Homo sapiens: one gene and its partner. The protein of the gene in region 2 purifies or fractionates together with the protein of the main gene of each other region. This does not show direct contact. Each region holds a gene or a part of one and is shown on either strand. Other genes may lie near its edges.

What was found.
Region 1: the proteins of CHD9 (region 2) and MAB21L3 purify together in Homo sapiens (co-immunoprecipitation; one large-scale study listed by IntAct). This does not show direct contact.

Annotation. Positions count from the first base shown.
Region 1 is NC_000001.11:116,121,113-116,124,937, reverse strand, and holds part of MAB21L3 (protein mab-21-like 3), read right to left. Parts: intron 3,619-3,825; exon of another isoform or gene 3,580-3,618; intron 2,808-3,579; exon of another isoform or gene 2,723-2,807; intron 1,344-2,722; exon of another isoform or gene 873-1,343; coding exon 581-872; intron 1-580.
Region 2 is NC_000016.10:53,306,280-53,310,104, forward strand, and holds part of CHD9 (chromodomain-helicase-DNA-binding protein 9), read left to right. Parts: coding exon 1-118; intron 119-1,401; coding exon 1,402-1,674; intron 1,675-2,406; coding exon 2,407-2,575; intron 2,576-3,825. UniProt on the Homo sapiens protein: Probable ATP-dependent chromatin-remodeling factor. Acts as a transcriptional coactivator for PPARA and possibly other nuclear receptors. Has DNA-dependent ATPase activity and binds to A/T-rich DNA.

The DNA of each region.
Region 1 (3,825 bases), on a different chromosome or scaffold from region 2:
CACCTTTTCGCTTTGTGTGAACAAAAAGGGAGTGTGTGTGTGTGTGTATGTGTGTGTGTGTGTGTGTATGCATATGCTGTACAGTAGCTTAAGACTTTGGAGTTGTCAAACTTAGTCAGTTCTTTATGGCTCCTGGATTTTGTGCTTTGGTACAAGTTAGTGGTTTCCAAATGTGGAATCTCAGCACCCTGTGGTACTGCAGTCAGATGGAGGTGCTGCAGTAGAAATGTGCTAATAAAGAAGACCTGGGGTTTGTGAATAATTTGCTTTTTTAAAAAACAATACGCTTAAGTTTTTAAGCCTGGTTAAGGTGCATAATCCACAGCATTTTATATCTATGCCAGCACAGTAACTTTCTTAAAGCCACAAGACTATTTTGTTAGTATGAATTCCAATCTTCTGTGCATCAACAGCAGGAAAAAAAGCTGATTCATATTATGAAGATTAAATAAATGTGAAGAGCACATGATTATTTTCTCAAATGTAGGCTGTGAGCTGCAGGTAACACCCAAACAGAGGTTTTATAGAGTGAAAGGGGAATGCCAGCAATTACCCTTGCACTTGTTCCTGATCAGCTCACCTGAGAGGTGACAGGTTCTAACTGCATTTTCCACCAGCTTCCGGAACACTAGGAGGACCTTGGCAGGCACAATGTCTCCGTCGATGTTCACATCTGTCTCATGCCACTGCCACAGGCTCTTCATAAACTGTTCCACCTCCAGCCACTGCTGCAGACCCTCAGGGTCCCGCAACGGGCAGGGCAGCCTGGTGCCCTGCAGTGTGTAGTACCGCCAGTGCTGCTCCCTGGCCTCCCTGTACCCGGCCAGGCCTTTTATTGGGACTGTGACGAGGAACTGACTGGGAGCCAAAACCTAGGGTCAGGAAAGGATTGAAAACAAGCATGAATTCACAGATTCGGGAGGTAACGGAAGTCCTGGGAACCAACCTGTCTCGTCAGGCAGCTCTGTTAACCACTCCACCCTCAGCAGAGTGACCAGATACACGGAGACCTCGACCTGGGTGTTACAAGTGGATTACCTCTTTGTTCTGCTACTGAATCATTGTAAATACTTCGGGCAAGTAAATTAACCTGCTGAGTTTATTATCTCATGAATATACAAGTAAAGACAGTGAACTAAACCAGGAACTCCAGAGGAGACCTAAGGTTTGAGAAAGAAGAATGAGTATGCATTCAGTTCCATGCAGACGCAACACCGTAATTCTAATGCATTTGACCATTTCAACTTCACAGTCACACAGTAAGGTGAGCTTTCTTGCCATTTTCCAGATAAGGAATTCAAGATGCAGAGGGGCTTGGAGATCTCCTCAGGGACACACAACCAGTAAGTAGAAGAGTCAGAATTTGAATTTAGGTCTTTGGACAGCTTGTTCAGTTATTATTTCTCTACCCTGGGCTGGCACTCAGCCAACAATGAATGACATGGAATGGTGAATGTTTTGACACAAATTAAAGGTGGGAAGTAACAGGAGGGGACGTAACAGATTTTGTAAAATATCTCCTTTTTTTTTTGGCCTGTACTGATGACCTATGGTCAGTGTTCATGACTAACCCTTCCAAAATAAAGGCAAAATGAAAGCTTATTTGTTGAGACAATGTGAGCTGTTGAGATGATTCTAAGCTTAAAGAAAAAAGCAAACAATCAGAATTTACCTAGCCCCTTTCTCCAGGAACCAGTGAAGCAACGACTGGGGGAAAGCAGGCAGACCGGCAGCCGAGAGGTAGAACAAGTGGGTAAACAGAGCAGCCAAAGGAGCTTGAACTATGACCATGTCCCACTGCATGCACGCCTTCGGCTGTGAGTCAGCTGCCTCCTCCTCCTGGAAAGCTCTGACCATGGAATTTGGTTAACTCTTGCCCAGGGCCAGTCATTGACCCATTGAGTGGGGAAAGCCCTAATCAGCTCCAGCTGGTTCTGTCTAACTCTAAGAAAACAATAGTTTGATGTTTTAGATGATGTATCCACATGACTTCTGGTACCCATAGAAAGGCAGCTGGATTTAAAAAGAGGAAAAACATCTAAAGTCCCTGGAATTTCAGATCTGTACATTATTTCAATTCACTTTCATGTGAATTCAAAAGCACAACTATCATGTTATTAGTCATATAAGTGGTGCTTAGTAGATATTTGTTGAGCAGCTTGGGCAATATGATGAAATCCATCTCTACAAAAAATAAAAATAAAAAAATTAACCAGGCATGGTGGCATTTGCACTTGTAGTCCCAGCTGCTCAGGTGGCTGAGGTGGGAAAATCACTTAAGCCTGGGAGGTTGAGGCTGCAGTGAGCCATGATCGCAGCACTGCACTCCGGCCTGGGTGACAGAATGAGACCCTATCTTTAAAAAACAGGCAAAAAAGCAAAACAAACAAAAACTTGTTGATTTTGATCTAAGTTAAAAGCAATTTTATATGCTATGCTGTAGCTATTTTCAAAACTTAATATGTGAGACATGACATATATAAATGCAAGATATATTTTAAGCTATGAATTCTAAGTGGGACCACTGAAGGAAATTTCCTTGGGTATAGTGCTAAGAAAAGTAATGTAATATCTCTATTTCTAGTCACTGGTCTATGTGTGTCCAAGTTAGATTGGCTTGGGTGGTAGAGTTGGGCAAGTGATATTCTAGCATTCCAGGATTCAGTCTGGTTTTATAATTTTCACCCTGGGATTAATTTCCTACAATCTGAGTCTGTTTCAGAATCCACAAATCCCAGAATCTCTTAGGTGGTTCCTGCGTCCACCAACCTTGAGATGTAATGGGCCAGCAATGGTCTTTTGCTCAGGTACTAATTCTTTTACTCATTCATTTATTCATTCATTCCACATATGTTAAGTGTCTACCATGTGCCACATACCATGCTGGGTGCTAGGAACAAAACGAATAGTAAACTTGGTCCTTACAATCGAGGGATGTGCAGTCTGTTGTGAGAAATGGGCCATGAATACATACAAATTTAATACAAAGTGAAAGAGGTAGGTGGCATAATAAAAATCGAGATAAAGAATAATGGAGATTCAGAATGATTCAGGATCTCACTTCTCTTACCTCTAAAATGGAAATGAACAGATTGTCTTTTCCACAAGGTGGTTTACAGGTTTAAGTAAGGTCGTTTCTCTGTGTACAGCTCTGCCCTCACTACTGTGTTGCCTGAATGCTGGTGTTACCCATTGGCTTACACTGGGTGGGATTCTTTAGCAGGGAGAGGGGTTGCCAGTCTGCTCCTGCAGCTTCTCAGTGGCACCTCTTCTACTTTCTTCCTTCCCCATCTGCAACCCACAGACTGACTTTCAACTGTCTTCTTATGGATGCCCTCAGTTCCCTCCACCCCACCCCCAATCTATTAAGTAGGTGCTTAATAAATGAATGTGTATTTAACTGAGCTTTGATTGTGACAGCGGAATGTGCTTTGGAATCAAAAGCCTCTGTGTGAGTTCTGGCTTTAGTGCCTGATATGACTTGATCAAGTCATTTGACTTCTCTGAGCCTAGTTTTTCTCATCTAGGAATGTGGGGGCTCAAAGGAAATAACATCTATCTTTTTTTCTTTTTCTATAGAGACAGAATCTCACTACATTGCCCAGGCTGGTCTCAAACTCTTGGCCTCAAGCCATCCTCCCACCTTGGCCTCCCAAAGAGCTGGGATTATAGGCATAAGGCACCCTGCTGGCTGAAATGACATGTATAAAATGAGACTGTAAATAGTAAAAACTAAGAATACCTATGAAAACAAGAATTGTTATGAGTATTCTGAGTGAGGCAAGCATCTGTCACACACTGAGATTCACCTGCCCAAGTGTCCTG
Region 2 (3,825 bases):
GTCACTGAGCACTACCCAGGATGAGACTCAGGATAGTTTTCAGATGAACAATGGGACACCAGAGTCTGCTTATATCTTACAAGGTGGATATATGCTGGCAGCCTCGTATTGGCCAAAGGTAAAGAAATAATTTCTTATTGGGATAGGTCATTTTTTAGTATTTTTCTATATTGCTTCAATGGTAGATATTCTTACTATGTGGAAACATAGGTCAGCGTAAAATGTAGGATGACATTTTGGTGTTAGCTCCAAAAGTATAAATTACTGCTATCAAGTAAATAGTTCTGCTTTAATGTGTATGCTTCTCAACATAACTTTAGAATGTTTAGAATAAAAGATAATGAATCCTTACTTTCAAGTTAATCCTAAAGTGCTTCTTTATGAAACAGGTGCTTTTGACTGAGTCTCCTTGAAGAAGTTTACTGTAGCCAGTTGTGACCTAGAATGAAAAGTTCATTTAAATACATGTACATTCAGTGGAAGAAGAAAGATTGAATTAATACAGATTTTCTTCCTTTTTTTTTGAGTCTCACTCTGTCGCCCAAGCTGGCTTACAGTGGCACAATCTCAGCTCACTGCAACCTCCGCCTCCCAGGTTCATGCAGTTCACCTGCCTCAGCCTCCCAAGTAGCTGAGATTACAGGCACCCACCACCCTACCTGGCTAATTTTTGTATTTTTAGCTGAGACAGGGTTTCACCATGTCGGCCAGGATGGTCTCGAACTCCTGACCTCAAGTGATCCGCTTGCCTCGGCCTCCCAAAGTGCTGAGATTACAGGTGTGAGCCAGTGCACCTGACCAATTTTTCTTCCATTATGTGACTAGACTAGTGCTGGAATACTTACCTTTAAGAATGAGGTTGGGAAATGGGAGAATGGAGGGTTTTCTCCTCTTCTGTGTACGTCTAAGTTGTTTGAACTTATTAGGAGTCTGTATTACTTTTTAATTATAACAGCAAAAATAAAACTATCTTTGTGGTATAATTTTTTGTCTGTTTGTTTGTTTGTGAGACACGGTCTTACTCTGTCACCCAGGCTGGAGTATAGTGGCACAATTTTTTAATTTTTTGCAGAGACAGGGTTTTGCTATGTTTCCCAGGCTGGTCTCAATCTCCTGGCTTCAAGCACTCCTACCACCTTGGCCTCCCAAAGTGCTGGGATTACAGACAGGTGTGAGCCACCACGCCTGCTTATGGTATAATATTTTTGAACTTCACCAAAGGGAATCTGTACTCAAATAACTTGTTGCAGAATTGTAATATATATATACACGAGAATATGTATGCATAGCACATACACATATGTTGAACTAGGGTTAAATCCATAGACTCTTGAGCTATTTGATCTCCAAAGGTCTGATCTAATTATTAAAATTACACTTTGATGTTGCACGCTTTTCTAGGATCGTGTGATGATCAATAGGTTGGACAGTATTTGTCAAACAGTTCTGAAAGGAAAGTGGCCTTCAGCTAGAAGAAGTTATGATGCTAACACAGTGGCTTCTTTCTATACCACAAAACTGCTGGACAGCCCTGGAGCAGCTACAGAATACAGCGATCCCAGTGTACCCACTCCCCCAGGTGCCGGTGTTAAAGAAGAACATGATCAGTCAACACAGATGTCAAAGGTGAAGAAGCATGTACGAGAAAAGGAGTTTACAGTGAAAATCAAAGACGTATGTGTATTTTTATTGCCCTAGGGCCTGATTGCGATTGCGGTGTGCAGCATGCTTTTCCTGCAAATGGCTGCCTGCTCTTACTCTTCCTTCCTTCACATACCTGTTTCTTGGTATTTGGATTATTTTCTTTCTGATATCCAGGTTATTAAACTTGAATATTCTACTAGAGGGATCGTCATTAAATATGTTTTTCTCTTTATGCTTCTGAAAATAGTTCTAATCAAAATGCTTTCTTAAACAGTGTGGCAATTTCTAATTGTTTTGGTTCTTTTATATAGTATTTAAATAGTATGTCAGTGTACTTTCTGTTTTAAACATTTAGCATGCCCTGTTATCAGTATTGTTTCATTTTTAAATGATTTTTGAAGCTTAACTTATTACTTAGTGTCTAAAACATAGTTAATGTCCTCCAAAATGTCATATGAATAATGTACATAGAGATGTATGTCTAAAGTTAAAAATGTTACAGTGTACTAGTAACATCTTGTTTTGGTCAGAAAAGTGTGTAGAGTACTTGTATTTTTTTCATTCAAAATAGAAAATTTGGTGTTATTATAGAAATTGATTTAAAATGTTTTTATTTGACTGATTTATGAATGAGAAATGAACTTCTTTGATGTTTCAGGATTTTTACTTCATTTTTTTTCCTCAGTAAAAAAATTCTCTTAATATCCTGCAATAAGATTTTTTTTAACAGTTTCTGTCTTAATAATGGTATTTGTTTAACAGGAAGGTGGTTTGAAGTTGACATTTCAGAAGCAAGGGCTTGCTCAGAAAAGACCATTTGATGGTGAAGACGGTGCTCTGGGGCAGCAGCAGTACCTCACTCGGCTTCGAGAGCTTCAAAGTGCATCAGAGACCAGCCTCGTCAATTTCCCAAAATCCATACCAGTATCAGGTGAATATGCAAGTAATAATTGTCTTACTATGAAATATTTTCTGTCATGTCCAAATCTTCTTTTATAGATGCTTGTAATAAAAATTTATTTTTCCTTTGTTGGAACCTCTTAAGCCTATAAAGTAATCAATAGAATTTTAAATCTTAACAAATATTTTTTGGAACTTTTAACATGACATTTTAAAGCATAAAGGGCAGTTTTCATTTTGGGGCCTAGAGTAGTTGTGTGGGAACATCATTTTGTCAAGTTGCCTCATACAGGTAAAAGTTCAAACTGCATTTCAGTATCACAAATTAATGGTGATTGGTAGAAGAAATTAAAAAGAGAAGTTTTAGAAAAACTTTAGAGATTGTACAGTCCAGGCATCTTCAGGATACAGGTGTTATCTATGACTAATCCCTAAAAGGTAATTATTCATCCTTAGGGAATACTTACAGAAACAAGGTTCCTTAAATAGCCCTTTTTATTATTGGGCAGCTCAAATTGTCAGAAAATTCCTCTATTTAGAAGTAAATTTTGCCTCCTATAGGTTCTTCTCAATTATCGAAGTTCTGTCTTTAAAAGGCAATGCATAATTAACCTAATCCTGTGTCTACATGATAAATCTTAGCATTTTGAAAGCAATTATCAGATCTCCCCTACAAACTATCTGTCTGTCTTCTAATCTTTTGGCAGTTTGAATCAACACATATTTATTAAATACCTAATTGGTGGTGCCCTGTGCTGTGTACTCCGTAGGCATTGAGGAATGCATTAGACATTGGTTTTAGTTTTTGTTTTGTTTTGGATTTCTGTTGAGATAGTGTCTCACTATGTTGCCTAGGCTGGTCCTAAACTCCTGACCTCAAACGATCCTCCCACCTGGCCTCCCAAAGCTCTGAGATTACAGGCATGAGCCACCACGCCCAGCCTGTTTTTGTTTTATCTTAGTACTTTAATTTATCTGTGTTCCTCTAAAAGTGTGATGTCAAGAATTGAGAATGAAAATTTAAAAAAAAAAGTTGAGAATGGTACTCAAGATTAACTGAGTCTTAATGCGTGGACCACAACATACTGATCTCCTAAAGTACTAGTTGTCAATTCAAGCAAATAAGTGTCTTGAATTTCCCTTCCTTGTGCATAAAGTTAAAGACTGTACTTCAGTATTCTACTAAGTCTAGTTGCCAAGCAATACATGCTGTATTATAAGTGTTGTCTTGAACTGATCACTATTTCCAAATGCTGCTATTACCACTTCTTAAATTATAAA